Regions from separate parts of the Homo sapiens genome. Here regions 1, 2 and 3 are each linked to region 4. Evidence: fine-mapped expression QTL. A gene starts in region 4. Each other region holds a variant in brackets. All regions are shown on one strand. Distances are between the middles of the regions. Region 1 overlaps KDM7A (lysine demethylase 7A). Region 2 overlaps LOC107986854 (a long non-coding RNA gene). Region 3 has its middle 48 kb from the start of KDM7A-DT. Region 4 holds the start of KDM7A-DT (KDM7A divergent transcript).

Region 1 (8,106 bases), 29 kb before region 4:
TTGGAGGTGGAGCCCGGTGTGAATTGTTTGGGTCATAGGGGCAGATCCCTCAGGAATGTCTTGTGCTGTCCTAGGGATGGTCAGTGAGTTCTCATGAGATCTGGTTTAAAAATGTATAGCACCTCCCTCCCACTCCCTTGTACCTCTTCTCACCATGAGAGCACCTACTCCCCCTTCGCCTTCTGCCATGATTGAAAGCTTCCTGAGGCCTCACCAGGAGCAGATGCTGGCACCACGCTTCCTGTACAGCCATAGAACCATGAGTCAATTAAACCTCTTCTCTATAAGTGACTCAGCCTCAGGTATTTCTTTATAATGATGCAAAAACAGCCTACTACAAAACCATTTAAACAGCCTAATACAAAACCATTCCTATGTATTTATGTGATTTTTTTTCAACAATGTTCACCCATGTGGTGCAGACCCAGAGCAGGAAATTGGATTCATCCAGAGTTGGGGTTTTTGTAGGTAAAGACCAGAAAAGGAGTTCCTGATATTTACAAGGGAATTAAAGGATGACCCGTGAAATGTAAGTGGTCAAAAAAGATGTGAAGACGGAAGGTAGTGAGAAAATGGTGAGATGATCTGAGGGGTCTTAATGGCTCCCAGCACTGAGTCCGTGGAAGGCCTTGAGCAACTGACCTATAAGGAGGCGAGATTATGCCCAAAGAGTAGAATGTTCAGAATCTGACATTTCCGAGGTAGCATCATCTATAACAGTGATAAGATCCAAGTGTGGAAACAGTGTGTGGCTAAAGGGCAACAAAAAGATCACTGCAGATAAGTGAAAAGATGCATGAGAGCTATCTCTGCATTCAATAAAACAAGTTCAAAACCAAACTTCCCTGATTTTAAATGCAAGGTTCATTAAGTGTCAAAAGAAATAGGTACTATACTCCCACCAAAACAGAAACTCAATGTTAACAGATGCCAAGTTGGCACTTTTTCTATAGAAACCCCTAGTTTGTCTTGTCTCACCTTGACCATGGCCACATTCCTCACTCCTAAGAAGTGACTGTGACACCAAAAGAATTAGAGAAAAAAAATGTTTAGATGTGTCCTGAAAAACCTAAACCAGCATATCATAAACTCTCCATGACATCTAAGATACATAAATCAGAATGACTCCCATGAGGGTTAGGGAAAAAAGGGGAGAAAGGGACATTTCAATTAGTTAAGAACACCTTGGGCTGAACATGACTATTAATCTTCAATGATGTATGAGTTCCTCTCTCTAGTGTCTACTTGTCATCCCACCTCACCCCATATAATCTGTTTTATGAAATGTCAGTGAAGGCTTCAGGTTTGGGCCAGTTCTAATCAACTGGTAAAACATTCATAGCTCCATTTATTTTGAAATTCAACACAACACAACAGTAAATTTGATATATCAATAAAAACATGAAATCTGGTAAACTAGTACATCTGAAAAACAGTCCATTTAAATTAACCATACAAAATACAATTTTAAAAAATAAAATTAAACACAAAAAGTTAACATTCCTAAACCAAGAATTATCTCAGGTCTTTGAAAGGAACCAAAAGGAACTACTGCCTACACTTCCGTTTCTCTCTCAGAGGGAGGCATAACTTCTCCCTACTCTCTTTATCACCCACTCCATCCTTCACTCACTGCCTCCCTACTAAAAAATTGCTAGAATCATGATAGCTATAACAGATATGTTAAGAGGAAATGCAGTAGGACACACAAAGAGCACAACTCTGAAAGCAAATTTTCTAAGGATCACTTTCAAACCTGGCACATAACCTTCTTTAGTCTCTTCCACTCACTTCTCTTGTAAAACTTTCCTTCATATATAGACTGTGACACTTTTTCCTAAAAGCAAAATGTTTAGCTTATTAGACCACTTTGTGTGTGAGGGCACAAGGGAGGTGTTTTCCTACAGGGTGACAATCTGACCTTTGCTGAATAGCTTCCATCTATAGAACAGCCTCACTGCCATTTGGTGAGTGGGGCAGTGACAACTTTAGCACTTTCCATTGTCTTAATCTTCTGAAATTGTTGCTTAGCTGGCATTTTTTTCTGACACTTGATGAGAACTGAATTGAATTAATGACTAACCGAAATTCCCTAGGATCAGCCAAACGTTCTCTTTTTTCCTCTCGGATAACACTCTCATTTATATTCTCTACTCTTGGTGTTAGAAGAGTGGGTGGCCAAATTCTTTCAGATCTTACTGTCCGTGGACTTCATTAGATATTCCTCTTGCTTCAGATACTCTCCCCATTCTTCACTGAATGATCTTACACTACCTAGTCTTCAAAGCCCCAAATTCCTCCTCCTTGATGATACTTTACTTGATCACACCACAGAAAGTCCTTCAACATTTTACTGATACACATTTCCTACCAAAAGGGTAGGAAAAAAAAAAACACATTTCCACTGACTTATGGCCTAACATTGTTTAATACTGAGCAATTTTTATATCCTATTCCCTGAACTGAGCTCTTTAAGATTTCTCTCTCAATACCAAGTACAAGATGATCACAGTAAATTTTTGTTGACTATTAACTGTGCTGCAAACTTACTTGAAAACTAATATATTGTGGCAAAATTTTTTAAAATTCTATTCGGTTTGAATTTTTTAAAGAATTTTCTTAAAATTCTTAACAGCTGGTAAAAACGGAAAGCTCTTTCAACATGTAAAGTACAACTTTCATCTTTCCTTAGACAGTAGAAGGCTGTGGTAATGAGATTTATATATCGGAAATTTTGCTTCAAGTTTTCACCTGTGTATCAGAAATTCACCTTCTCATCCAAAGCACCCAACTACTCATTTTCTTCACTGTGACATGTGACATAATCAGAGGACTGAGTCATTGTGTACCCCTAAAGTCCCACACTAACAAAGGAGGATGGGGAGTGGCCTTTGAGGTAAATTAACTCCGGGAATACAGAGGATAGCTGACAGCTTGCTCTGCATGTTTCCTTTCCTATCTTGATTCTGGGGTCAGTTTAGGTCTAGAGACAGCTATAGGAGAGGCAAGGTATCCTCAGTCTACTACCTCCATGACACCGGATAAACACATATCAACTGGCTTCAATGGGATGCATAGATTGTAGAATTAGAAAGACTTGATTTGATTTCCAGCTCTACTTGTTTTGACTTGGAGCAGGTTTCTCAATCTGCCTGAGGAGCAGGCGTTCCCCTGAGATTAAGCAGGACAATGTATGTCAGTATGTAAAGCATGGGACTAAGCCTATAGTAAGCAATGGCACAGTAAACATACTAAGTCATAAACAGCAGCTATTAATATTATTATCATGTCTCTACCAGGTTCCAGTCAGCCAACACTGCCCTAATCAACAGCGTATTAGCTACGAGGTTTGAGCCCAAATAGGAACTAGGCTTTTATGATTGGGCTTAGTATTTTTTTCTTCAATAAGGTCTCTTCAGAGCACACACCAGGCACTCAAATGGCTATGCTTCAAGAAAAAAAAAAAAAAGAGAGAATTTGTTTTCTATTTTTAATTAATTTTAGATGGTGGAGTTGAGAAAAATCTCTCTCTCTCGAGTCAGTCTGCCTGTGTTAGAATCCCAGCTACCCCGCTTAGTAAGCTGTATGACTTCGGGTAACTTACTTTACCTGTTTTTTGTTTTGTTTTGTTTTGTTTTTTGTTTTTTGGTCTCATCTGTAAAGATGGGAAATAGTAACAGTAACCCCCTCAAAGGATTTTTAAGAAAATTAATATACATAAAATGCTTAGAATGAAACTGTAGAACAATGGTTTTGTTGTCCAAAAATCTTACGTTGCTAGCCAGTAAAAATAAGGCTTATTAATTGGCTTAATAAGTTGACATTCTTACTAAAAATACTAGGATGCCAATAGGCATTTTCACTTTTAAATTGTTAAT[C/A]GTTTTATACAATGTTTTAACCCTGAGACAGATCACTTTATTACCAGATATCAGCTAAGGTAAAAATTTATAATTTGTATGAATTATTTCCAGTGAAAAATCAAACTGGTAATGTATGATTAAATTTGTGGCTCAGAAAAACCCAACTTCTATTATTTTCTTGCTGACATAAAACTGTTTTCACAAAATTAAATGGTTTCTTCATAAATTGAATATGGTATGTTTCCACTTTTGTGAAGATTATATAATTGACACATTAAAGCTGTTTAGTGGCATACTATATGCTTAAGGGGTCTGAAGTAAATGCATACTCTGAACCAAATTCCTTTGGTTCACAATCATCTCTTAAGGTTCACTTATGGTTCACTTTTCCTACCTCCAACAGCAGGGCTCATGCTTCCAACTGTCCCAGGGCTTCCAGAGTTATTTCCAACCAGCTGATTAAAAGAATCTATGATAATAAGGGTGAAGGGAGAAAGACAGTATAAAAAGGAACTGATCAAACAACATGAGAGGAAAATTAGGTTGAAGAGCCAAGATGTGCACTCAGTGGTACAAAACATACTCCCCAAAAAGCTAAAAATCCTGTTGACAAGCTTCTAATTAAATCTGTCCCACAATGAATATGTGAAATATGCACATCAATATGATTTGTATGGTGATACATTATTTGCTTCAAGTACATAAATGCTTGTTATTTTGCTCTTTACTGCCTGACATCTTGGACACAGAGTAACTGGCAATGCAAATGGTGAATGCATCCTTACAAATAAGCACAAATCATTATTTCATGAAGGTAATAATTTTTATTAGAATGTTCTAAAGAAGGAGGAGGTGCTTTACATTTCTGAAATATTCAAGAAGCTAACTATATTTACTTTTCACTGTCCTGTGGTGAAAAGGACAGTGAAATTCTCAAGTTAATACTCTCTTATTCCTCAGCCTACTTTCTGCCTACCTGGCTGGGTATGAGGAATGTCTACACAGACTAAAGAAATTAGGATACAAACAGTGCCCAGTATATCTGCTATTTTTGTGGAGATAAAGACTATTCTTTTATTTATAAACTGTGATACAGCAAATAAATATCATCCCAAAATGAATATGATGTGAGAATTTGGTAAGAACTTTGTAAATCATCTTAGGGAAGAAAAAACTTGCCATGATGATAAATAGTATCAATTTCATAAAGGTTTGCTTGGCAATGTTTTTAAGTTAACAAAGGCAAGAAGTATGCTATCTGTAATATATATCTGAAGTGTGTATATACATAACAGTATGTATGTGAAGTTCTACAACACATGTGAATATTTATATGCCTCTCTTAAATATAGGTATTAGAGTGAAAGTCGCGTAGAGAAAAATGATTCCTTTGGCAGAGCAAGTTTTATGGTGTAATTTACTACCTGCTTTCTGTCTTCTTCTCTATCCATTCCCACCTCCCTTAACACTAAGGAAAGGTGAAACAGCACTAAGCACCTTGAGCCCAGAGATGGAAAATGGGAAAACCTTCCTGTTTCTAGCAGCTTTGACCACCACACAGGGTCTCATCAATAAAGAAATATATACACCCTACTACTGTCACTATTTTTGACTGATGAATTCTACAAGAAGAAACATTATACAAAAACTTGTTAGTACCTAGAAGTACAATGAAATGTTTACTGAGTCCAGTTCCTCATGAAATGCAAGACATAAGGAATTAACACACTAAAAACTTTCTAAATCCCTTTAACACTCAGTCTATCTGTGGCTCCCAAACCTGGCTATGCATTAGAATCCCCTACAAGCTTCTATAAGCTTCTACACGGCAGCCTTTCAAAAGAATGATGCAGCTCTGTAAGTAGGAATATGGAAAGATCTCCAAGATACGCTTGCTGTAAAGCAACAAAAGCCAGGTGCGTAACAGTTTGTATGCGATCCCCTCATCCCTATGTTTGTAAATGCAAGGTATATGTCTGGAAGGGCATGTAAGAAATTGGTAACAGCAGTTGCCTCTGGGAAAAGAAAACTGAATGGATATAGAATGGAGAAGAGGAGAATTGCTTTTCACCATAGAACCTTCTCTATACCTTCTGAAATCAGCAGTGTACATTGTTTATTTTTAAAAAGAAAAACACATTCCTGAGCCCCACCTTTGCTCTACAGGGAAAGTTAATGAGTGTGGCCCAATAATCTCTGTTCTTTTTTTTTTTTTTTTTTTGAGACGAGTTCCACTCTTGTTGCCCAGGCTGGAGTGCAATGGCACAATCTCAGCTCAATGCAACCTCCGCCTCCCAGGTTCAAGCAATTCTCCTGCCTCAGCCTCCTGAGTAGCTAAGGATTACAGGCATGAGCCACCACACCCAGCTAATTTTTTGTATTTTTAGTACAGATGGGGTTTCACCATGTTGGCCAGGCTGGTTTCGAACTCTTGACCTCAGGTGATACACCCACCTCGGCCTCCCAAAGTGCTGGGATTACAGGCGTGAGCCACCGTGCCCGGCCACAATAACCTCTGTTCTTAACAAGTTCCCCAGGTGATTCTTTTGCAGCAATCTCAGCAGAGAAATGGCACTGAGGAACTATTGATCTAAAACTCTAGCATCATGGCTAGTGCGACACCAAATTTTCATAGGAAGTGACTTTCTATGAAAGCTTCGTTGGACTTTAAGCTCCTTAAAGACATGGGTAATATTTAATTCAGAATTTCCCATTGCCCACAGATCTACCTAAAGCTGATTACATAGTGGATTCTCACACAATATTTACTGATTGACACAAAGCAGGAATGCCAAGAACATCAGGGAGACATTCGCTTGGGCTACCATCTTGGAGCCCGTTTAAATATAAATTTTGCAAATATAAAGGGATAGAAAATGAATGTGAGGGGGAAAGTACAGAACTGATTATTTTTTTCTTTCAAGAATTTATTCTGAAATGTCCATACCTTTTTCAATGAAAAAGGACACAGTATTCCTGATTATTTAGGTTCAGGCAACTATAATCCTCTTGTACAGGAAAAAAGGTCTTCATTCATCACAAATGTATATATTATGCCCATTTACTTTTCCTTTCATGTAGTTCCTAAATGTCCCTATCTTAATCTGACATTTGGAATGTCAGTAAAAGAAGAAGACAAATGGATTATAAATGAAATAAATAGGATCTTTAAAAGATGAATGAATAAGCATCTGAAACTCTCCAATCCAGCAGACAGTTTTATTTCCCATTGCAAGTACAGAAGGGAAAGCTATATTTTCTAGGGCCTAATGAAACCTACAGAAGATTGAATATATACAGGAATAAAAGATCATACCTTGGGATAAAAGATAATAGCAAAAACATATATCTAGGACACTTAGTGATGAATCAACTACAATGGACAAGAGTCAACTAAGGCAAATCAAGTAGATCTAGTTTTCCTACTAACCTTTCTCATCTCATAAATAGTCTTCAGTGCCTGCATCTAAGGGGAATAAACACATTCCAAACCAAGCCAAGCCAAGAGAAAGCATTCATATTAAAGGCCTCTCTGCTGGAACAGAAACTAAGGCAACATTCTAAGGAGAACTTAATATCCTTAGTATGCTTTTTCATTCTTGATGAAAGACGAGTTACAGTAGGGGTCTGAACCACAAAAATCTTGACATAACTGGTAACAACATCCTACGTGGAAATTTATATATGACCCAGAGACCTCAAAGAATTTTAATACATGGCCAGAAGTGGTGGCCCACACCTGGAATCCTAGCACTCTGGGAGGCCAAGGAGGATGGATTGCTTGAGGCCAGCAGTTCAAGACCAGCCTGGGCGACAAGGCAAAACCCAACTCTACTAAAAATACAAAAGTTAGCTGGCCGTGGTGGGACACACTTTTAATTCCAGCTACTTGGGAGGCTGAGGCGTGAGAATCACTTGATCCCGGGAGGCGGAGGTTACAGTGTGAGCTGAGATCATCCCACTGCACTCCAGCCTGGGCGAGAGTGAGACTCCGTTTCAAAAAAAAAAAAAAGAAATCCAACACAATTACAAATCAGAAGTATCCATCAATAGCAAAATAGGTGACGCTGAGTTGCCAGGAAAGGTCAACAGCAAGCACTGGACCATTCTATTTCGAAACATACAAGTCAGGGCAATATGTAAAGTACATAAAGTGTAAGAAGGATTTTTAACCTATTCACATGTTGGATCCCTTCAAAAGATAATTTGTCATTATAGGTTCCTCAAAGTCCATTTTGTAATTCCT
Region 2 (8,106 bases), 60 kb after region 4:
CCTACACAACTTGTATTCCTATCAATGGATGCTATTTGCTTCCTTTTCATTTATCAGCCCTTGCTTTCTAGACCTGAGCTGTCCAGTACATTAGCCACTAGCCACATGGGGCCGTTGAGCACTTGAAGTCTGGCTAGTCCAAATTGAGATGTGTTGTATGTGTCAAACAAACATTGGACTTCAAAGACTCAGTAAGGAAAAAAATGTAATCATTAATACTTTCAACATTGATTATGTATTAAAGTATTTTAGATCTATTGGGTTAAGTCAAATAGATTATTACAATTAATTTCAGCTTTTTCTCTCCTTCCTTCCTTCCCTCCCTCCCTCCTTTCTTTCTCTTTCCTTCTCTTCCCTTCTCTTCTCTTTTCTTTCTTTTCTTTCTTCATCTCACTGTCTCCCAGGCTGAAGTACAGTGACACAATCATAGCTCACTACAGCCAGGAATTCCTGGGCTCCAGTAATCTTCCCACCTCAGGCTCCTGAACAGTTAGGACTACAGGCACACCCCACCGTCCCCTGGCTAATTTTGTTTTAGAGGTGGGGGTCTCATTATGTTGCCCAGGGTGGCCTCAAACTCCTGGCCTCAAGCAGTCCTCCCACCTCACCCTCCTTAATAGCTGGGACTATAGGCGTGAGCCACCACGCCCCAGCTTTCTACTTTTATTGCGTTAATATGCCTAGTAGGACATTTTTAATTACATATTTGGCTTGTGGAGGCTGGGAACATTCTTGATCTGGATGATAGAGGTATATGTTTGTGTGTGTGGTGTTGAAATTCATCAGACTGTGTCCTTAAGTTTTGTGTACTTTACTGCTCTATGTAAGTAAAAGTCAGTTTAAAAATTAAACAATACGGCCGGGCGCGGTGGCTCACGCCTGTAATCCCAGCACTTTGGGAGGCCGAGGCGGGCGGATCACGAGGTCAGGAGATCGAGACCACGGTGAAACCCCGTCTCTACTAAAAATACAAAAAATTAGCCGGGCGCAGTGGCGGGCGCCTGTAGTCCCAGCTACTCGGGAGGCTGAGGCAGGAGAATGGCCTGAACCCGGAAGGCGGAGCTTGCAGTGAGCGGAGATCGCGCCACAGCATTCCCGCCTGGGCGACAGAACGAGACTCCGTCCCAAAAAAAAAAAAAAAAAAAAAAAATTAAACAATACAGGCCAGATGCAGTGGGCTCATGCCTGTAATCCCAGCACTTTGGGAGGCCAAGGCAGGTGGATCACCTGAGGTCAGGAGTTTGAGACCAGCCTAGCCAACATGGTGAAACCCCGTCTCTACTAAAAATACAAAATTAGCTGGGCGTGGTGGCACGTGCCTGTAATCCCAGCTACTCGGAAGGCTGAGGCAGGAGAATCGCTTGAACCCAGGAGGTGGAGGCTGCCGTGAGCCAAGATCACACCATTGCACTCCAGCCTGGGCAAAAAGAGTGAAACTCTGTCTCAAAACAAATAAACAAGAAACCCCAGCTGGTGTAAACACAGAATGGAGTTTATTGGCTTGGGAACTAAAACGTCCAAAAGAAAATCACGCTGCAGCCAGGGTATGGTGGGGACCTGGATCCTTTTTTCTGTGATTCTCTGGGCACTCCCTCCATGGGTCACTGAATCCTCAGGCTGACCTCCCAGCCATGAGCAAAATGGCTGCAGCAATCCCTGGCCCCACATGCACATCCCACCCCATCCAGGAAGAGAGTTTCTTGCCTCCCATGCTCAAAAAAAACACTGGATTTCACCTAACCAATCATTTAGCCCAGCGGAATCTCACGTGCTCAATGGTGCATCCCTGAAATGTGCTGGTGAGCAGCACCCAGTCACTGCTAAAAGAACCCTGATTAGGCTTAAGCAGCTAAGGCCCCATCCTATACAAATCTCGAGGCTGCCATATATTTGGGAGATATGGATGGGTTCTGTGAAGTTGACAACCAGCAGTGTCTACTAGATAATCCAGGCAGTTGACAACCAGCAGTCTCTGCTAGATAATCCAACCAGTTGACAACCAGCAGTCTCTGCTAGATAATCCAACCGGTTGACGACCAGCAGTGTCTGCTAGATAATCCAACCAAGTTGACAACCCGCAATGTCTGCTAGATAACCCTACCATTGCAAGTCACTACCTACACCAGGGCTCAGCAAACTTTTTCTGTAAGGGACTAGTCGATAATGAGGCTTCATGTGCCTCCTAAGGGTTGTTTTGTTGAATTTGTTTAACAACCCTTTTAAAAATATAAAAACTATTCTTAACTCATGGGGCTTACAAAAACAGGCCAAGGGCTAGATTGGCCTAAAGATCATAGTTTGCCAACCACTGATCTGGATCGTTATGATACTTGTGATGTCTACATTGACCTTGTTAACTTGTTTCCCCTGACTATAATCAAAGCTCTTTGAGAGCGGGAACCAGGTCTGTCTTATCCACCACTGTCTTCTCCACACCTACAACAGTGTTGGCACTTTGGGAGGCCTAGGCAGGAGAATCACTTGAGCTCAGGAGTTCGAGACCAGCCTGGGCAACGTAGCAAGACCTCATCTCTACTAAAAATATAAAAGGTGTGGTGGTGTGTGCCTGCAGTCCAAGCTACTCAGGAGGCTGAGGTGGGAGGATCACTTGATTCTATGAGATTGAGGCTGCAGTGGGCCGTGATCATGCCACTGCACTCCAGCCTGGATGACAGAGCAAGATCCTGTCTCAAAAAAAACAAAAACAAAAATACAGTGCCAGGCACATGGTAGATGCCCAATAAATATTCACTGGATGAATGACTATGAAAACTTTATTCTAGAGCATATCAGGACCCAGTGCCTAGCTCTGACCTGGGTTTCTCTGTCTGTAGGACACAGCTGCCCCCATAGTGACCGACGCAGGAACGGACAGGGCTGCTGCTGGTCCACACAGTACCTTTGTGCAAATCAGAAAAAAAGGTTACTCCTGCTGGCTGCTGTAGCCCAGCACCTAGGAGCACAGTGAGTGGGTGAGGGCTGAATTTCAGCCCCTGCCTTCCCTCTTGGAGGGTGTTTTTGGGTGGGATACCTGCCCAGTTGCGTGTGCTGGCTCTGGGATAGAGTGCAGAGTTGGAGTTCTAAGACCTCACCTGCTTTTATTGTTCCCACACCTCTCTGAAAAATGTTTCTGATAGCACTCTGCCTACAGCTTTTACCCTTTTCTCTCACCAACTCCCAGTCCCTTCTCTTTCCAGTTGTTTTCAACACAATGACTGTGATTTGCATATATTAAACTGAAATTCTCATTTTGTGCTTGGAAATTCATCCAAGCAGAGTAGAATGTGGCATAAGAGAGACCAGCCTGGACAGCATAGCAAGACCTCATCTCTACTAAAAATATACAAAGTTAGTCAGATGGAGAGGGATTGTGGTTGGAGAGGGATTTCTGTCCTGTGTGCTTACTACACTTGAAGAAAGACCATGAGAAACTCAAAAAAGAAGCAACCAAATCGTCAAGGAAATAGTGAAGTTGCCGTAAAAACGCAAAGTCATGTGTTAAGGGTTCTTCCATTTGGGAAGATAAAGGCTAAGAAGGAAGAACATCTGTTTAATCATGGATGGTTAGGGTGCTCTTGAACTCATTCACTAAATCCTGAAAGAGAACCGGGGAGGGGGTGCTCTGCTTAAAGCTTGAGAGAGTTATATTTAGGAATAATCAAAGAAAATGTTCCTTCGCTTGGTGGGCGGTAGGGTCATGGAACTCATTATCCCAAGCAGGAGTCAAGCTGGAAATAAAAAGTCTTGGGGTACTTAGCTGTTGACAGACCCCTAATGACTTATGAAGAGGAACGAAGAGGCCTTGGGATATGGGCAATGTTCTTTGAAGTTGCTGACGAGGAGCATGACTGGTTGTCCATAGTGTGTCCCTGCATGCCCGCCTCAGAGACAGTTCTGAGCTGGGCAAGACGAGGAGCCAAGGCGGCCCCCACAACCCCTGGCAATCTGGAAGTTTGCCTTATTACTGGGGGACGGGGTAGGGGCCTCGTACAGGAATGCTTGGCTTTCCCAACTCAGTTTTCTGTAGGCCAGCTACCATCTATTGCTGGGAATTCGAGGGTCATCAAAACAAGGAAATGATGTTTGTGGATGTTTTACCTAAAT[A/G]TCTACACTATCCATGGGGACCTCGCCTGTTGTCATTATAGGAGCTGACATTTAGTGATTATGATTATGTACTACGTGCTATTATATGCATTTATTTAATGTTTATAGCAATCCTGTAAGGTAGGTGCTATTATTTCATCATCCTGTTTGACAAATGGGGAAACTGAGGCACAGAGCAGTAGCTCTTTCAAAGTCTAACAGGCAATAAATGATATAGGACTCAAACGAAGGCCGGAAGCCTCTGGAGTACATAATGGACTATTTCTCCATTAGACTGGGGTTATAGCCACTCCTATGGTGCTACCAGAGAGGACACAACTCCCCTCCAGCCATGTGGTACCAGGAAGGAGTGCAGGCCCATTGTGGCCATATCCACTTTTTCAAGAAAAGCCATAAGGATCAATACTGGGTGGATACAACAAATCTAGCTAAACACAGACTGAGGTCGCCCAGCTCTGATCGTTGCCGTACCCACACCACCCTGCAGCGACACATCTTATGGGCAGGGTGCTGTTGTCCACGTCCATGAAAACATGAGTTACCAGGCATAGGCTCAGAGCAGCAGGGAGCCTGGCTGGACACACACGGTAAAAAGGCTGCCAGGCCGGGGTGCCTGTGTCTAGAAGTTGGTCTCCTGCCTTTCAGTGGTGCTTAGTGATCTCTCTAGGCCTCTGGCCAGTCCAGGATTCTATGACTGTCATCGCAGAGAGCAGCAGCAAAGGCTGTAAGGTGTGGACAGATGTTTGACGTCTGGGAAGATGGGCTCTGTGGCATATAACCAGATTGTCCCAGTTGGCACATAAGCCACACAAAATGTGCAGAACCCAAGGCTATACCTTCAATTTCGTGTGTGCTGAGAAAACTGGCAGTGCAAGGGACCTGTGACATCCCGTGGAGACTTCATTCAGGTTGGGCGCTGCACCCCAACCACACAGGGAGGGCTGAGGGCTTTTTCTAGTTTGCACAAAGGCGCCATCTGTGAGCTAAGCTGCACATCATGGGTGTGCGTCCACCCGGAGGAGGGACCTTTTCCAACTCACATCAGGTTTCCTTGTGTCCCCAGGGGCCCTGAAGCAGTCTGGGGTGCTGCTGACCTTCCCCCACACCCCCACTGCTTTCTATTTATATCTTCCCATCTTTTCTACCATTCAGAGTGCAGGTGGGATTTAGGGGACCCAGGAATGCCAGAATTCTGCCCTAGCTCTTCCACCCCTTCCTTCCTGTGGGGTTCCTGGGGATTGGCACACACAGAGGATAAAGGCAAATGGCACAGAGCCTGACACTCCACTCGGGGCAGGGCTCTGGGCTGCATGGCACAGCTGAGGCTCGGAACTCCAGGATCCAGAGGTTCTCCCTTCCCTGGCCATGCTTGGGCCCAACCTGCCAGTGCTCATGTGGGGAGGATGAGGGAGGCCAGAAGGACAGGCTCCAAGAGGACCTTGGTTCGCCGTCCTTGTTCTGTCCCCAGAGCTGGAGGAGCCAGTGAGAAGAGCAAGATCCATCCACCCCCTGAGAGTAGGATGTGGGAGGGAAGGCCACACCTTGGCACAGACCTCATCACACAGGGTCCCCGCCCCCTTATACAGGTGGCTGAAGCAGAGTCCTGGATCCTGGCCAAAGGGATTGGCAGCAGCTCCCTAGAGGGAAGCCAGCCAGGGGCGGGCTTCTTGTCCCCTACGGGAACATGGTCTCATTTGATCTTCACAGCCTCCCTGTTTTACAGATGGGGAAACTGAACTGCATGCTAAACAAGGATGAGGAATTGGGTCTAGGTCACGCAGGTAGTAAGCAGAGCTGGGCTTTGATGCTGTGGCCGACTCTGCAGCCTCTGCCCAGGTTCTTCTTTGGGATACAACTGCTGACAGCTCACCGCCAGTCTGTTCCCAGGAATAGCCCTGCCTGAAGGGGGCTGCCTGGCCCAAGGGTGGCTCCTTCCTTGCGGGGCAGCCTGAATTCAACCGAACCATGTAGGGGTGAGATATGGGGAGTGGGGTGCAAAAACCCAGCCCCTTGCCTCCACTCAGGACAACTCCGAAGGGCTTTGTAACTCGTCATGGGATGGAGGGCCGGGCTTTGGTGGCAAGTGCATCACATTTCACCTTCTCCCTTGGCCCAGCCCTGCTCTCCTCTTACAGTTGCTGTGCTGAGCACATGCCTGGATCAGCCTCTGCGGGCATCTTGCCTATGCCATCTGCACTCCCCGTCCTTAGGAAGTGCTGCCTCACCTCCTTCCTAGGACCCAGGACAAATAAACCAAAGATCCAAAAAGTAGAGGGTGAGGCAGCCCAGAGGTTTACAACAGCAGTAAGTGACTGCCACCCCTAGGCTGGAGGGAGAGAAGGAGGGGGCGGGGTGCCTGTGTCTAGAAGTTGGTCTTCTGCATTTCAGCAGTGCTTAGTGATCTCTCTAGGCCCCTAGCCAGTCCAGGATTCTATGAATGGGGACAGAAGGAGGGGTCGGGCTTCCCTGCACCCAGGGATCACCCAGCAAAGCCAGAGCTATGGTGGGTTTGTCAAGGGGGGAAATGCAGCCCTTGATGGAAACACTCCTGAAGTTGGGGGCCCAGAGTGACACCCTGACTTCTCTCTTCCTTTCTGCTTGACTTTTCTGATGATAGACTACCTAACAATACGAGGTGTTGTATTGTTAAACTTTGCATACCAAGGTCTTAATATGCACATATATTTGGGTAATATTAAAGATTTCGTCAGCTTGGGGTCCATAATAATTTTTTTTTTTTTGAGACGGAGTCTCGCTCTGTTGCCCAGGCTGGAGTGCAATGGCATGATCTTCAGCTCACTGCAACCTCTGCCTCCCGGGTTCAAGCAATTCTCCTGCCTCAGCCTCCCAAGTAGCTGGGATTACAGGCGCCCACCACCACACCCGGCTGATTTTTGTATTTTTAGTAGGGATGGGGTTTCACCATGTTGGCCAGGCTGGTCTTGAATGCCTGACCTCAGGTGATCCACCTGCCTCGCTGTACTAAAATGCTGGGATGACAGGCCTGAGCCACCGCAATAATTTTTTCTTTTAAAAGAGAAACACTGCTGTAGGATGATATGCCAGAGGTGTGTGGCAAAGCACCGTCCACTCCAGCCCAGACACCACAGCCTTAAGGTCCAATTCCTTAAGTTTCCATTCCTTTGATCCTTTGGGATATGGGGGTGGGGAGCTGAAAACAGCCCTTAGGGCCAGAGGATGTGGGAGCACAGGAAGAGGTCCTAGAAGTTTCCTTGTCCACATTCCTCACTTTACTGAGGGGAAACCCCAGACCCAGAGAGCTCCAAGCTTGGACAACCCCTTTTATGGAGGGTGAACTGTAGTGTTTTGGGGAATCATCACTACTGAGGAATGGAGTCAGCGCAGGGCTTTTATTTTTATTTATTTAATTAATTTATTTATTTAGAGACAGAGTTTCCCTCTTGTTGCCCAGGCTGGAGTGCAATGGTGTGATCTCGGCTCACTGCAGCCTCCACCTCCCGGGTTCAAGCAATGCTCCTGCCTCAGCCTCCCAAGTGGCTGGGATTACAGGCACCCGCCACCATGCCCAGCTAATTTTGTATTTTTAGTAGAGACAGGGTTTCTACTAAACCTGTCTACTAGTAGAGACAGGGTTTCGGTTACACCTAGGCTAATAACCATTGCGCTCTGGATGGGCTGACCCTCACCGTGTTGGTCAGTCTGATCTCAAACTCCCGATCTCAGGAGATCCGCCCACCTTGGCCTCCCAAAGTGCTGGGATTACAGGCGTGAGCCACCGCGCTCAGCCAACTGCAGGGCTTTTAAATCTCAGCCTAGATGAGGGCTTGTATGTGCACGTGTGTGTTTGGTATGTGTGCATGTACATGGTTCGTGTGTACATGCATGTGGCATGTGTGCACATGTGTATGGTATGTGTGCGCCTGTGGGTGCACATGTATGTACGTGTATGGTGTGCATGCATGTGTGTGTGCATGTATGTAGATGTGTGCATGTGTGCAGTCTCCATTTTGGAAGTTCACA
Region 3 (8,106 bases), 48 kb after region 4:
GAAAATTTTGAAGCTGAAGAAAGTAAAATGACCTGCCCAGGGTTACAAAGAGAGCCTAAGTGAACTGCAAACCCCAATAACCTGTTTATTTCACAGCTACTAAATCCAGCTTTCTCTGATAGACTGCTGGCTGCTTAACCTAACCCAATACCAATGCGCCTTCTCCCACTTAGTAACAAACCCCAAATTTATTCTGAGTAACACTGCTTGCTGCCAAAGGACTAAATTTCCCAGCCTCTCTTCAATTTGGACTGGCCATTTTAAATTCTAGCCAAAGAGATGTAAGCAAAAATATAGTATGGTTCTTCTAGGAAGAACATAGGCCTTTCTTCTCCTTTTCCTCTGTCCTGCTGCCTAGAAGTCAGATGTGATGGCTGGAGCTCCAGCAGTCAATTTGGACCATAAGGATGAGACACAGCCTAGGGAATGCAGTCAGAAAACTGGAAAGAGTCTGAATAATGGGGACGCTGACATAATAGACCTCAACTATGTACATGAGAAACAATTTTATATATCTTGCTTAAGTTGTGATTGTTGCAGCTGAATCTAAACTAACTGGTACAAATCAGGAATAGCTTCAACAATTTTCTCTAAGCCTTAATGACAATCCTCAAATAGCCTGAATGCATCTCTGGGGCTTGGGAAGGTATGGCCAGCAACTTCCTGCTCACTCTGGAAGCCCCCGTGTGCTGTGTTTCCAGAGCCAGGAGAGGCAACATTGCTCAGTCCTTGGAGGACCAGGTCACACAGGTTCATCAGGGTTTTCTAAGTCTATGTTCTGGACTCTATTTCCAGAACTCCAGCCACTTCCTGAGCCTTCAAGCTGCTGTTTTCCCCTAACCCCAGAAAACCCCTGAGGTTGTGTAATTATGAACTCCAAACACGGAGCACCAAAAATCAACAGAAGTCAGGAAAAGAAGCTCCTTAACCTTGTCCAAAGAAGCTCAGTAAAAATACAAATAGTAGCTGTGAGTGAGGCAAAAACAAATCTGTAAACATAAACAGATTAGAGGCCGGGCATGGTGGCTCACGCCTGTAATCCCAGCACTTTGAAAGGCCGAGGTGGGCGGATCGTGTGGTCAGGAGTTCGAAACCAGCCTGACCAACATGGTGAAACCCTGTGTCTACTAAAAATACAAAAATTAGGCAGGCGTAGTGGCATGTGCCAATAATCCCAGCTACTCAGGAGGCTGAGGCAGGAGAATCGCTTGAACCCAGGAGGCAGAGGTTACAGTGAGCCAAGATCATGCCATTGCACTCCAGTCTGGGCGACAGAGCGAGACTCTGTCTCACAAAAAAAAAAAAAAAAAAAAAAAAAAAAGAGAGAGAGATTTGAATTCATTGAATTCAATAGAGATTTAAAAATCATTAGAATGGGAATCTTGAAACTTCAGTAAGGATTTTCCTGTTAAAAAACAACAAATTCGGCTGGGCGCAATGGCTCACGCCTGTAATCCCAGCACTTTGGGAGGCCGAGGCAGGCGGATCACCTGAGGTCAGGAGTTCAAGACCAGCCTGGCCAACATGGTGAAACCCCGTCTCTATTAAAAATACAAAAATTAGCCAGGTGTGGCGGCGTGTGCCTGTGATCCCGGCTATTCAGAAGGCTGAGGCAGGAGACTCGCTTGAATCTGGGAGGCAGAGGTTACAGTGAGCCAAGATCACGCCACTGCTCTCCAGCCTGGGCGACAGAGCCAGACTCTGTCTCAAAACAAAAATAAAAACAAAACAACAAATTCAACCTGACTGGAGAGACCAGAACGTGGGAGTCCCCCATTCGTGTCCCACTGATAAGAAGTGTCCTAGGAATCACAGCAGCTGGTGTCTGAGATCAACAGCCCCCCAGTCACTAAAGCGCTACCCTGCCTTTCACACTCTAGCCCCAGAGCTGGGAAGGGAGCACTCATGGGGACATTGTCCCTGTTCGCAGAGGGAACACGGCCGCTTGTCAGCGCCTTATCCCACTGTCAGGGCAGCTGGCTGGGATGGGAGGGGAGACTGCATGAACCCCCATATTTGTGAAACTGAGTAAAAAGGAAGTTCACTTCCTGAGAAGGGTGAACTAGTCAGGCATGACATCTACAATCACCTTGCTTATGAGGCTGCAACAGAGGGGTGCTTGTCTACAGAGGACGTTAGCTACACAGGCGACGGCCCTGGGCAGATGACAGCCACGCTTGCCCATGGCACTGAGCATACCATGGTGCCCGGTGACAACACTGGGGTCGAGTCTGGAAGCCCTAGAGAACTCTGCTTCCCAGGGCTGCTAACACTGACTGGGGAGGACCCTCTGATGTTACAAAAGCCAGAAAAGGCACCCCCGGTCTCTTTCACGAACCTGATTTCCCTGTAGGAAGTAAGTTCTTGCTTCTCTTAAAACGCGATTCCCAGAACTGAACATAATAAATATTTCATTCCTAGGACCCTAAATGGTCCAATGGGACCGTTACTTCCCCTGTTACTTTCTAGCAACGTGACTTCTATCTTCTGTGGAAGTGGGAAAGCACCTGACCTGGGGTCTCATTCCACTTCTGCCACTTAAGGACTGAAGCCTCTTTGAGATTCAGACTCTTTGGCTGTCAATGGGGGTAAAAATACCCTGCCTATCGCTGTGAATCATTCTGAAGGGAATATGCTCATACACCCAGTGTCCAGCAGTCTGGGGAGACGTGAGATCCCTTTGCACGGATACCCCATGTCACAACGATTCTGAGGCCCCTGATGAGCGCAGGCCCTCAGCCCCAGCCCTGCAGAAGTATTCCCTGGGTCTTTCAGGGAGTCCTCAAAAGGGTCCCCGACATCTGTTGAACCAATCAGTCCCAGTCATCATTGTATCCTTCCTCTGGCCTGTCTTCTGTGGCTTGAGGTCCACCAATACGAGCCTTGGGGCCACTACCTCTAAGACACAGTGCCCATGGGGCTGCCAGGCTCCAGGTCCGGGGCTCCGTTGGTGCTCTAGATCCCTACACCCTGCGTGACCCAGCAGTGCTGATTCTGTGCACGGATGGAGAAAATGCACCTTCCACCCTCAGCCACTCCGTTATCTCCTGCAAGCAACTTTCAGCAACAACTCCCACACCCTGCCAAAAAAACAACCACTGACAAAAA[C/A]ATCAGTTTCCACAGGAGTGAGCTCAGCCGTTCACACCTTCAGACAACATCTCCCCTGGACTCAGGACTGCCTCAGCCTGAATGCCTGATTAACACGCCCAAGCCAGAACTGTGAAGCCCCTCAGAGGGGAACAACAAGAGAGCACAGCTGCCTGTCCCGGAGGCCTTCATGAAACCAAAGGACTTCACCCCCACAGTGAACTGAAACATCCACCTCCAAACCCAGAAAACTGCTGGCCACTTTCAAAAGACACCTCCTCCTCCCTCTCAGGAGCTGGGCCACGCTGCAGCCTAAGGCACCTCTGTCCACGTTGGAGGAGGAGGCCAGAGGGACCACCTAGGGAAAAAAAAATAAAGCATTCAGAGTCAAAAAATACTGTTGATTGCAGTGTGGCAGAGGTGCTAGGGCAATGGGGGAACACATAGGTTCAGAGAAAATCAGACAAATGCAAAAAAGAAACTGCCATTAAGTCCAGAAGGAGAAAAGGGTTGTTTAATCACAGAGTGTTGTCCTAGAACACTACATGGCTCAGAGGTGAGCCATGCCCCCTCCTAACACTACATACCTCCTCCTAATAATGTGAACAGTTGTCATTTATTTCATAAAGTACTGGAATACAAGGATACAGAAGGGGGTATAGGAAGGAGAGCGTTTCCTCCGCTACCATGATTGGAAGTTAACAAGTAGTGTGCAAAGTCGAAAATCAAGAAACAGTAATGTGGCTGGACGTGGTGGCTCACACCTGTAATTCCAGCACACCTGTAATTCCAGCACTTTGGGAGGCTGAGGCAAGCAGATCACCTGAGGTCAGGAGTTCGAGACCAGCCTGGCCAACATGGTGGAACCCCATCTCTACTAAAAATACAAAAATTAGCTAAGTATAGTGGCGCACACTTGTGATCCCAGCTACTTGGGAGGCTGAGGCAGGAGAATTGCTTGAACCTGGGAGGCAGAGGCTGCAGTGAGCTGAGGTCACCCCACTGTACTCCAGTCTGGGCAACAGAGTGAGACTCCATCTCAAAAAAAAAAAAAAAAAAAAAGGAAAGAAAAGAAATAGTAATGTAAGCATATTGTTTAGAAAAATGGTGGAAAATACAAGAAAAATGGCTACAGAGTTGGCAGTGCCGGCCTTCAGGAAGACAGCCTTGGGGAACAAGAGGCTAAGCGCAATTGTAATTTTTCATTATACTTTTTATGTATTTATTCTACTTTGCTTTTTATAGCTATGTACATGTAGCATTCTGTTAGAGATAATTTTATATAAAACAAGTCCTGACCAGGCATGGTGGCTCACACCTGTAATCCCAACAATTTGGGAGACCAAGGTGGGCAGATAACTTGAGCCCAAGAGTTCAAGACCAGCCTGGACAACATAGTGAGACCTCATCTCTAAAAAAAATTTAAAAAATTAGCCAGGCAGGTGGTGTGTGTCTGCAGCCCCAGCTACTGAGAAACCTGGGAGGTAGAGGCAGCAATAAGTCATGATCACGCTGCTGCACTCCAGTCTTTGCAACAGAGTAAGACCCTGTCTCAAAAAAAGAAACCAAAAAAAAAAAAAAAAGAAAAGGAAAATGAAAGAAAACAGATTTTCTCAGCCTCTACAAAGGCAGGTTTCAAAAACCTCAGGGCTCTATCACAGCTAGAGCTGTCATCAGATACGTTGCCATGTGTATTACTTTGCTAGAGCAAAGTAACAAAGTACTACAGACTAGGCAGCTTAAACAACAGTAAAGCATTGTCTCACAGTTCTGGAGGCTGGACGGCCGAGATCCGGATGTCAGCAGGATGGGTTCCCTCTGAGGGCTGTGAGTGAGAATCTGTTCCAGGCATCTCCCTGAGCTGCTGGTGGTTGCCAGCAATCTATGGGGTTCCTTGGCTTGTAGAAGAAGCACCCTGATCTCTGCCTTCATCTTCACATGCCATTCTCCCTGTGTGCATATCTGTGCCCAAATTTCCTTCTTTAGTTTTTATTTTTATTTTTGAGATGGGGTCTCATTCTGTTACCCAGGCTGGGGTATAGTGGTGCAATCATAGCTCACTGTAGCCTTGACCTCCCTGGCTCAAGCAATCCTCCTACCTCAGCCTCCTGAGTTAAGCTGGGGCCACAGGCATATGACACTGCACCTGGCTAGTTTGTTAAAAATTTTGTATTCTCTGTAGAGATAGTGTCTCACTATGTTGCCCAGGCTGGTCTCAAACTCCTAGGCCCAATCGATCCTCCTACCCCAGCCTCCCAAAGTTCTAGGATTATAGGCAGGAGCCACTGCACCTGGCCTAATGGATCAGGGACCACCCTACTCCAGTATGAACTCATCTTAACTAATTACATGTGCAATGACCATATTTCCAAATAAGGTCACATTCTGAGGTACTGGGGGTAAGGACTTCAGCATATGAATGCGGGGGGCAGTAGCAGTAGGAGGAACACAATTTAGCCCAACAAACTGTTAAAACTGTGGAGTGTTATTGTCATATACTTTAAAACAAATTGGCCACCCTGCAGGTCCTGTGTCTTAACATGGCTGCCTTCCTATAATACTGACTGGTACACTTGCTCCCAGAGCTCCCAATTCAACTCTGCAACAGCCCCAACTCTCTTCATTTCTCCCTGAACACACACCCACTGAAAGGTACTCTTGCTCCCTCCCCTCAGCCCCCACATTAACACCTGTCACCCTGTGGTGCTGCTGTGCCTATGTCCTGATTCCTTTGCACAGATCCCTGCTCACTAATTGAGCCTTATCTCTTCTCCCTCTCCCATTGATCCAGCCAGTCCTTTCCTCCTTCTTCTTAGATCAGGGGTGTCCGATCTTTTGGCTTCCCTGGGCCATACTGGAAAAAGAAGAATTGTCTTGGACCACACATAAAATATATTAACAATAGCTGATGAACTAAAATAAATAAATAAAATCACACAAAAAAGTCTCATGACATTTAAAGAAAGTTAACAAATTTGTGTTGGGCCACATTCAAAGCTGTCCTGGGCCGCAGACAGCCCATGGGCTGGACAAGCTGGCCTTAGATAGATTGAGACCAGGAAGCCCCCAACTTCCCCCATAATAGAACTCGTAAACTGAATCTCAGCACAAAAGGATCATCCTCCAGTGGCTGAGTACACTAGAAGCTTGAGTCCTCTGCTCATGGGGCCACTTCCTAGTTGGGTAATGGACAACTTAACCTCCCTGTGGCTGTTTCCCTACCTGTAAAGTGGGACTAATAATAGTAACCCACATCATAGGCTTACATGACATAAAGCATGTGAATCTCCTAGCACAGTGCCTAGAACACAGTAGGTATTTAATAAATACCATTTGTTACTATTTTACTATTACCAGGTGTTACTTTTTATCTTCTTTCATTGAATCATGTCCAGAGCAAAGCAGGGCTGTGCTAGACCTCCAAACCGCCTTTGACTCAAAAGAGAGGCCCCCGCTGGGCTGGGCGTGGTGGCTCACACCTGTAATCCTAACTCTTTGGGAGGTCAAGTCGGAAGGATCCCTTGAGCCCAGGAGTTCAAGACCAGCCTGGGCAACACAGGAAGACCCTGTCTCTATTAAAAAAAAAAAAAAAAAAAGCTAGCCATGGTGGCTCACACCTGTAATCCCAGCACTTTGGGAGGCCGAGGTGGTGGATCACCTGAGGTCAGGAGTTCGAGACCAGCTTGGCCAACATGGTGAAACCCCATCTCTACTAAAAATACAAAAAAAATTAACCAGCATGGTGGCAGGTGCCTGTAATCCCAGCTACTTGGGAGGCTGAGGCAGCAGCATCGCTTGAACCCGGCAGGCAGACGTTGCAGTGGCCGAGATCACGCTATTCCACTCCAGCCTGGGTGACGGAGTGAGACTCTGTCTCAAAAAACAAAAGAAAGAGAGAGGACCCCATTGGGTCTGTGCCGTGCATCTCAGCTACCAATGCTTCCGCATCCTCCTGGTTCTGTCCTGCTAACAACCAACAGGACAGCTCAACCTGCCTGCTTTCCTCCTGGTCTCCCAGGGCACATCTGTCTCTGGAACGGCCCTCATCCCACTCTGCCTCACTCACACGATTCCTATTAGCCTCTTAACTCAGCGTGGTCTTCGGGAGCACACCCTTCAACCCAAAAGCAGCACTTTTAAAACACGTTTAAAAAGTGATTTAGTAAATAATGTTGATTTCTTTTGTGAAATTTTTAAAGACAAAGTCAAGTTACGTTACCCATGCCATAACAACGGAAGCAAAAACAGAAACCTATATTCCATTCCATTTTAAACTCAGGGACACCCAAGCACCCAGCTGAGGGCTCAGCAGCTTGTTTTTGCAATGTTCTACAGTGGGAAAGAAAGGAACAAAAAGCCTAGGAGTGGATCTCTAGAGAAAGACATTGTATATTTTGTCTGAAAGCATCTTACTCAGGAACTCCAGTTCCAACACCGTTTGGAGATGGTTCTAATCAGAGAAAAGCAAAACCCTAAAACATTTCTCAAACAGTTCTTCACGATCTGCTGCCTAAGACTCTTGTAGTACTTGCCACAGCAATATAGAGAACGTTTAAGCTTCTTATTTGTAATAAAAAGTGACAAGAGGCCAGGCGCGGTGGCTTACGCCTGCAATCTCAGCAATTTGGGAGGCCAAGATGTAGGGATCACCTGAGGTCAGGAGTTAGAGACCAGCCTGGCCAACACGGCGAAACCCTGTATCTACTAAAAAATACAAAAAAAAAAAAAAAAAAAAAAAAAAAAAGCCAGGCACAATGGCTCACGCCTGTAATCCCAGCACTTTGGGAGGCTGAGGTGGACGGATCACGAGGTCAGGAGTTCGAGACCAGCCTGACTAACATGGTGAAACCCCGTCTCTACTAAAAATATAAAAATTAGCCGGGCATGGTGGCGTGCGCCTGTAATCCCAGCTACTCAGGAGGCTGAGGCAGGAGAATCACTTGAACCCGGGAGGCGGAGGTTGCAGTGAGCCAAGATCACGCCATTGCACTTCAGCCTGTGTGACAGAGCGAGACTCCG
Region 4 (8,106 bases):
ATCCACCCTGCAGCCTGACAGAAAAGCATCAAGGACAGGTCTTCCTTCCCTGTCACAAGAAATTAGGGCAACAACTTTTCAGATTTCCTTATGTCAGAAACGCCAGGCAGAATAAACTAAAATTTATATATATCAAAATGCACTGATTCCTCAGTTTAAAAAGTCCTTCTACTTAAAGAAATAAAGTTAACAAGAAATTACCCAGGCAATGGCAATTCTCTGTATCCAACCTCCTACTCCTCCTTGCTCCTCTACAGATGGACCACCTCTGGTCCAATGAAATCTAAGCATGGTAAAGATACATCTTAGTCCTTTAGGGGTCAATTCTCATGGAAGCAAATGATATTTGTTTAATAGTTAATATAAAGGAACATTTTGCTGTGTTCCGAAAAACGATCACTCATTTTATGGTACAGTAAACATCAGAGTAAATACCACGGGAAAAACATACAGAGTCCAAATTACCAATACTTAAGAATTAAACTTACTAGGCCGGGCAGGGTGGCTCACACCTGTAATCCCAGCACTTTGGGAGGCCGAGGTGGGCGGATAACCTGAGGTCAAGAGTTCGAAACCAGTGTAGCCAACATGGTGAAATCCCGTTCCTACTAAAAATACAAAAATTAGCCAGGCGTGGTGACGGGCACCTGTAATCCCAGCTACTCGGGAGGCTGAGGCAGAAGAATCACTTGAACCCGGGAGGCGGAGTTTGCAGTGAGCAGAGATGGCGCCACTGCACTCCAGCCTGGGTGACAGAGCGAGACTCCGTCTCCAAAAAAAAAAAAAAGAAAAAGAAAAAGAATTAAACTTAATAAAAAGATACTGCTTTTGTAGGGCAGGACAATATAGCTAAATTTTCTAACTTTTGACATCTGAACCACATAAGTTTCAAGGATTGATGGTCAAAAAGACCCTGGGCTCAAAAAAACCTATTTTAGACTCACTTCCACAGATATAAAGTTACACAAATTTATGTGTCAAAGCAGAGAGGGCATATTTGTTTTGGCCTTGCTCTCCCTCCTTCCCGTAAGCCCTCTGTATTTCCTATTTCCCTATTTACAAGTGTATACTTACATGTATTACAAAATTCTCCATCAAATACCTGGGGCTTTTCATGGTTATAGTGTTAAGTGACCTAAATTAAGATAAATACAATTCTAGTCTAAAATTTGGTAGCCTATCAAATCCGCATTGCATAATGAGACAAGTTTCTTTTTTCTTTTTTTTTGAGACGGAGTCTCACTCTGTCGCCAGGCTGGAGTGCAGTGGCGCGATCTCGGCTCACTGCAACCTCCGCTTCCCGGGTTCAAAAGATTCTCCTGCCTCAGCCTCCCAAGTAGCTAGGGTTACAGACATGCACCACCACGCCCAGCTAATTTTTGTATTTTTAGTAGAGACGGGGTTTCACCATGTTGGGGTTTCACCATGTTAGCCAGGATGGTCTCGATCTCTTTACCTCGTGATCCACCCGCCTCAGCCTCCCAAAGTGCTGGGATTACAGGCGTGAGCCACCAAGCCTGGCGAGACAAATTTTTATGCAGTTTAAACCGCCTCAAATTTCAAAAAATAGTTCTTTGAAAAAAAATAAGCATTTACATAATCACCAGGGATTCTGATTTTATTCTATATAGAACCTAAATGTTCGGATAATCTTTATTCTAGTTGCGTAGAATATGTTATGGAAACAGGATGTGGAAATAGAATTGGATATACAAGACTGCTAAAGATTATACGAAACGAGGACGCTGCCTTTCTTTTAAAGTGATAATTTACTGTGTCTTGTTTTCTGTTGTGAGAATCGGCTAGCCTGAAAACTGATTAAGTAAAACTGTACTTGAAAATTAAGTAAAACTTAACTACACCTAGCACTAAACACTGCAAAGAACATTGTGATTTACATGGTTTTCTCTCCCTGGACCAGTAGAGGGAGACTAAGACATCTGGCCTGGTCTTGTAGTGTTTCTGTAAAATTGGGGAGGGGGGGAGCGGAGGCTGTATTTAAATGTCCTGCTGTCAATCAAAAGACACTTCCTACAATCACAGTCACCATATCTGCTATTACTCGTGAGCGTGCTCTCGCCAAGAGACAACACCAAACGGGGCCCGGGAAACCGGCTTCAACTAAAGGTGACCGCAGGCTTTGCCACAACACCCAAATAAGGACTTTGGGAGCCCAACCCCAACTAGTTTCTTTGTTTAAATGCCTGTGAATCCCTCCCACGCCGGAGTCAAGAGGCTGTGGCGCCGCCCTTTATTAGCCTCACACTTTGATTACAAAACACACGAGTCGGCGGCCTGGCTGCGGAGGCGGCCCGAGCTCTCAAACGTCAAACCCGGAGCGCGGCGGCGGCTGAATCAGAGGGCAGCGTCCGCCGCCGCCGCCAGCCGGCCCCGCAGCGTCCGCCCGGCCGACTCAAGTTCGCCGGCACCGGCGCCCGGGCACAGCCGCAGGCGGTCCCGGTGTCGCCAGCTTCGAGCGATGGCAACTGCACTCTTTGTAAAGTTTAAGCCGCGGCGCGAGGGCAACGCAGGGGGTCCGGAGAAGCGTTCCCTTCGGGCCGCCGCAACCCACTCCATCTGCCCCAGTCCCGGCGACCCGGGTGTGTGCGGGGGCCCAGGACCGCGACCCGGGTCAACCTGCCGCCCGCCGGGGGCCCGGCCCCAACTTCCCCGGCACCTTTCAAGTCCCCGAGAGCGAGTGCCTCATCTGTTGCTCTGTTTACTCCGCGGAGCCCCGCCGAGCTGGCTGGCGCGGTCGCCTCTCCGGCCCGCCGCTGCCCCCGTCCCACTGGCCCAGGAAGTTTGATAAAGACGGGGAAGGGGGCGCGACAGGGACCCGCGGCGCGGAGGAGACGCGGGGCCGGGGCGACCCCATCGCCGCCCGGAAGGAAGGCAGGCGCGTCGGCCGGCCGGGCAGAGCGGCGGGGCGGCCGGCGACTCCGGCCGGAGCCCCGGGCGCGGCGGGGCGGGGCGGGGCGGCGGCGGCCCGGGCTGGCGAGGGGCTGCGGACCCGGCCGGCGCTCCGCCCGACGCCCCCGCCGCGCCCGCCCGGCCGCGTCCCCTCGCCCCAGGCTCCCCCTGCCAACTTATCCGCCGGCCCTCTTTGTTCGTGTTTGTTGTGGCGACTCTTCGCCCGGGCCAGGCGAGCCCACCGGCTCCCCTCTGGAGCCCGCCCGGCGAACCCGGGGCACCGCGCGCCCCACTGCCCGGCCGGGGGGCTAGGCACCGGGGCCCCCTGAAAGCTGGGCGCGGCGCGGCGGCCCGGCCCGAGGGAGGCGCGGGCGGCCGGCGGCGGCGGCGGTTGGTCGGTGGCCGGCGGTGGCGGCTGCGGGGCTGGAGGGGGTTTATTTACCTGCCGTGGAACCAGTCCTTGCAGATATCGCACTCGATCATGAAGCGGTTCACGTCGTACGGCTGCCGGCACACACAGTACACGGGCGGGGGCGGCGGAGGCGCCGAGGCCCGGCCGGGAGCCGCCACCGACACGGCTGCCGCGGCGGCTCCAGCTGCTGCTCCCGCGGCCACCGCCGCCGCCGCTCCGGCCATCTTTAAAAAACACACACACGCTCGCTCGCTACTCCGCTCGCCGACTGGAGCGAGCGCAGCCGCCAGCCAGCGCCGCCTCCTGCAGCAGCCGCGGCGGCGGCGGCGCCTCAGTGCGCGCGCGCGAGGCCGCGGCGGCTGGCGGAGGGGGAGGAGGCGCGCGCGACGCGCGAGGCCCAGACTCGGCTGCTTCCGGCGCTCGGCGCGGGGCCGTGCGTCTCGCGCACGTCTCTGGCGCCGGCGCGCGCTCCCCGCTCCTCTCCGCGACGGCCGGGCGGAGGGAGCTGTTGAAGGGCACGCAGGCGGCTGCGGGGGCGGAGGGAGCTGAGGCCCCGTGAGGACACGCGCGGTGGTGGCGGTGGCGGCGGGCGCGCGGCCGCAGCCGGAGGAGGACGGCGGGAGCGTGCGAGGAGCTGGCTCGGTTATTTCGGAGCGAGAGCCGAGGCCGGGGGAAGTTCCTGCGGAGTGCTCAAGGGCAGAAGAGGTGCCGCGTCCCGAAGAGGGGAAGCGGAGAAGTTTGCTGCTGCCCGGGTCGCCTCGCGACGCTGAGAGAATCGCCCAGCCCTCCGCAGCCGCCCAGCGAGAACCGGAGCTGCGGCCCCGCACCGGCGTGAGTCCAGCTGAGCTGACACGCCGAGCCGGTTGTGCCTTTCCGAGGGAGGAATGTGCCGTGGAATCCAAACTTTGGAAAACGTCCCACCCGAATTCCCAGCGAGCAGCAAGGAGACCAGAGCGTCGATGGAGCCACCGTTAGTTGCGGGAGGGCTGTCCCCAAGAGGAATTCATCACTGTCGTCCGCTGGGAGGGACCAACCTTGAAATGGGGTTGGTGGAGAGAGGGATAGAGAAGAGCCGGCGTGCTTATAAATAACAAAACTTAGCTATGAACCCTTCCGATTCCCAAGTGGGGAAGATGGGGTAAAATTCTAAGTGACTTCTCGCTCCGAAGAGGGATACCACAAAAAGCGGAGCGCAGGGTACTTGGCGTATAATAAGCCATCAATAATTTATGGGTGAAATTGAGAGCCAAATATAAGATGATAAACTGAAGAATAAAAACAGCTGACAAATACTGTATAGAAAAGATTGCGTTGGAATCATAACTGTGGATTGGAAGTGATGTTAAGGATTATTGGATTGAGTATTTGTAGCTGAATTTCTGCTGGCATTTCTATCAGTGGGGAAAGCCCTCACAGCTCCATAGGTAATTTTTGTTAGGGGAGGAAGAAGTGTTGTTCTGTCACCCACCCCCAGGCAAAGAGTCGCTGATCTAATTCTCCATTTCTTTCTTTCTTTCCTTTCTTTCCTTCCTTCCTTCCTTCCTTCCTTCCTTCCTTCCTTCCTTCCTTCCCTCCCTCCCTTTCCTTTCCTTTCCTTTCCTTTCTTTCCTTTCTTTCTTTGAAACGGAGTTTCGTTCTTGTTGCCCGCGCTGGAGTGCAGTGCAGTGCTGTGATCTCGGCTCATTGCAACTTCCACCTCCCGGGTTCGAGGGATCCTCCTGCCTCAGCCTCCCAAGTAGCTGGGATTACAGGCGCACGCCACCGCACCCGGGTAATTTTGTATTTTTAATAGAGACGGGGTTTCACCATGTTGGCCAGGCTGTTTGAACTCCTGACCTCAAGTGATCCGCCCGCCTCGGCCTCTCAAAGTGCTGGGATTACAGGCGTGAGCCACCAAGTCCTGCCTAATCTCCTTTTTATAGTTGAGGAAAGCTAGTAACTTGACTGAAGTCTCATATATTAGAGCTGTAACTGAAGTTTTTAAGTGTCTCAATTCTGCAACTATTCGTTTTTCTATCACATCACTGTTTGGCATATATATAGCGGGAAAAGGAAAGGCTGGAAATTAGTTGACCACACACTGATTAAGCTTGAAACATATTTCTACTGGAGAAAAAAAGGTACTGTAATTTTGGCATAGGCATCACATATTGCTGGAGTGGAAAGACCCATGCACTCAGGTCCTGCTTTCTATAATCTGTGACCTCGGGCCAGTCACTCCATTTCTCCTGAACTAGATCACTGATGATCTGTTGAAAGAAAAAATATGGCTAGTAATGCCTTAATTATCTCACAGAGGTTTTACATGGAGCAAAAAGACAATGTATTTTTAAATGTACTTTGTTGAAGGTGTGTGTTGTCGAGACAATACAGCAGTGAAGAGAAGGCATGCAAAGCTGTCTTGTTGGAGTCTGGCTAAAGAGCACCAAAGCAGCCTGTTGTGGGATGTCCTCTGGGGGCCACCTGGACTTGCTATGTTAACATGGAGGGACTAGGCAGGGGTATGAAGAAGGAAGCCCAGCAGAGCAGGAGGCAGCAGCAACAATGAGAGATTGGTTATCCATATGACTTGGATCTGTGTCCCCACCCAAATCTCATGTTGAATTGTAATCCCCAATGTTGGAGGTGGGGACTGGTGGGAGGTGACTGGATCATGGGGGTGGATTTCTTATGAATGGTTTAGTACCATCCACTTTGTATTGTCCCCGTGGTAATGAGTGAGTTCTTAAGAAATCTGGTCATTGAAAAATATGTGGCACCTCCTCCCTCTCTCTTTTGCTCCTGCCCCGGCTATATGATGCAATTTGTCTTCAGCCATGATTGTAAGTTTCCCGAGGCCTCCCCAGAAGCTGAGCAGATGCCAGCATCATGCTTCCTGTACAGCCTGCCTTCCATGAGCCAATTAAACTTCTTTCCTTTACAAATTACACAGTCTCAGATATTTTTCTCTTTTTTTTTTTTGAGATGAAGTCTGGGTCTGTCGCTCAGGCTGGAGTGCAGTGGTGCGATCTCAGCTCACTGCAACCTCCACCTCCCGGGTTCAAGCAATTCTTAGGCCTCAGCCTCCTGAGTAGCTGGGGTTACAGGTACCTGCCACCATGCCCGGCTAATTTTTGTAATTGTAGTACAGAAGGGTTTCACCATGTTACTCAGGCTGGTCTTGAACTCCTGACCTCAGGTGATCCACCTGCCTCAGCCTCCCAAAGTGCTGGGATTACAGTTGTATGCCTCAGATATTTATTTATTTATTTATTTATTTATTTATTTTTATTTATTTTTCTTTTTTTTTTTTTTTTTTTTTTGAGACACAGTCTCACTTTGTTGCCCAGGCTGGAGTATAGTGGCATGATCTTGGCTCACTGCAACCTCCGCCCTCTGGGTTCAAGGAATTCTTTTGCCTCAGCCTCCCAAGTATCTGGGATTACAGACGTGCACCACCACAGCCAGCAAATTTTTGCATTTTTAGTAGTGGCCAGGCTGGTCTCGATTTCCTGACCTCAGGTGATCCACCTGCCTCAGCCTCCCAAAGTGTTGAGATTACAGGTGTGAGCCACCGCACCCAGCCCAGATATTTCTTTATAGCAACGAAAGAACAAACTGATACAGTTGTGTACAAGAGAACTGATCAAACGCAGTCGTGTTGGCCAGACGTGGTGGCTCATGCCTGTAATCCCAGCACTTTGGGAGGCCCAGGCGGGTGGATCATGAAGTCAGGAGATTGAGACCATCCTGGCTAACATGGTGAAACCCTGTCCCTTCTAAAAATACAAAAAATTAGCTGGTTGTGGTGGCACGCACCTGTATTCCCAGCTACTCGGGAGGCTGAAGCAGGAGAATCGCTCAAACCCGGGAGGCAGAGATTGCAGTGAGCCAAGATCGCGCCACTGCACTCCAGCCTGGGCTACAGAGCAAGACTCCATCTCAAAAAAAAAAAAAAAAAAAAAATACAGTCGTGTTGCTTAACAACAGAGGTAAGTCTGAGAAATGCATCGTTAGGCAATTTCATCGTTGTGTGAACACCATAGAGTGTACTTACAACCGTGTTTGGTATAGCTAACTACACACCTAGGCTAGATGATGTAGCCCATCACTCCTAGGCTATACACCTGTATAGCATGTTACTGTGCTGAATTCCATAGGGATTTAGAACACAATGGTAAGAAATTGTGTTTCTAAATATAGAAAAGGGAGAGTAAAAATATCACATCATAATATTATGGGGCACCATCATAATATGCAGTCCATCATTGACGGAAATGTCATTATGCGACACGTGACTGGCAATGAGTTAAGGAAAATGGGAGCCAGGTTTCTCAATGTTCAGGAAGAGAATTACAAATAAGAGGAAACTTTGGTGGTGGGCTAGTAATGGAGGTATCAATCTATCACTATTTGTAGAAATAGATATAGGTGTATATGTACATACCCTGTCCATTGAGAGGATCTGGGAGTAGTGACACCACAAAACAATGAGAACAGCTAGCCCAGGTCTTGGCTTCTAAATACCATTCTCCACTTCATTTTTCTTCTTGGCAAAATAGTTGATTCCAGGACTGGAGAAGAGGGTACGGGATGAGCCTGGAACTTCTTGTAGTACCAGAATATAAGGACGTGCTCAAAGAATAATGAGGCATGTCTAAAGGACACCAGCCAAATCAGGGACAAATTGTACTTCAACATTTAAAAAAAATCATGTATTATAACCCACTGAATAATATAGGAAGCTATACCAGTGTAAAGAAATACATAAATTGAAAGTTTGATAAGCAGTGGAATAGTTTCAT

Evidence for each region.
Region 1: its variant is fine-mapped to the expression of KDM7A-DT in whole blood (INTERVAL, PIP above 0.99).
Region 2: its variant is fine-mapped to the expression of KDM7A-DT in whole blood (INTERVAL, PIP above 0.99).
Region 3: its variant is fine-mapped to the expression of KDM7A-DT in whole blood (INTERVAL, PIP above 0.99).

Annotation. Positions count from the first base shown.
Region 1 is chr7:140,144,766-140,152,871 of GRCh38, forward strand. All of the region lies in intron 1 of KDM7A (lysine demethylase 7A), which reads right to left. Among named protein-coding and RNA genes, the nearest start is that of KDM7A, 28 kb to the right of the region's middle. The variant C/A (reference allele first, on the strand shown) is at 3,879.
Region 2 is chr7:140,233,333-140,241,438 of GRCh38, forward strand. The region is part of intron 1 of LOC107986854 (a long non-coding RNA gene); the gene reads left to right. Among named protein-coding and RNA genes, the nearest start is that of KDM7A-DT, 60 kb to the left of the region's middle. The variant A/G (reference allele first, on the strand shown) is at 4,105.
Region 3 is chr7:140,220,909-140,229,014 of GRCh38, forward strand. No RefSeq gene overlaps it. Among named protein-coding and RNA genes, the nearest start is that of KDM7A-DT, 48 kb to the left of the region's middle. The variant C/A (reference allele first, on the strand shown) is at 3,109.
Region 4 is chr7:140,173,392-140,181,497 of GRCh38, forward strand. It overlaps KDM7A-DT (KDM7A divergent transcript), which reads left to right and starts at 3,870. Exons shown (of 1, transcript NR_024451.1): 1 at 3,870-6,249. It overlaps KDM7A (lysine demethylase 7A), which reads right to left and starts at 3,592. Exons shown (of 20, transcript NM_030647.2): 1 at 3,353-3,592. The coding sequence starts at 3,546. RefSeq lists silencers at 2,321-2,600, 2,611-2,790, 3,431-3,530, 3,571-4,000 and an enhancer at 3,225-4,148.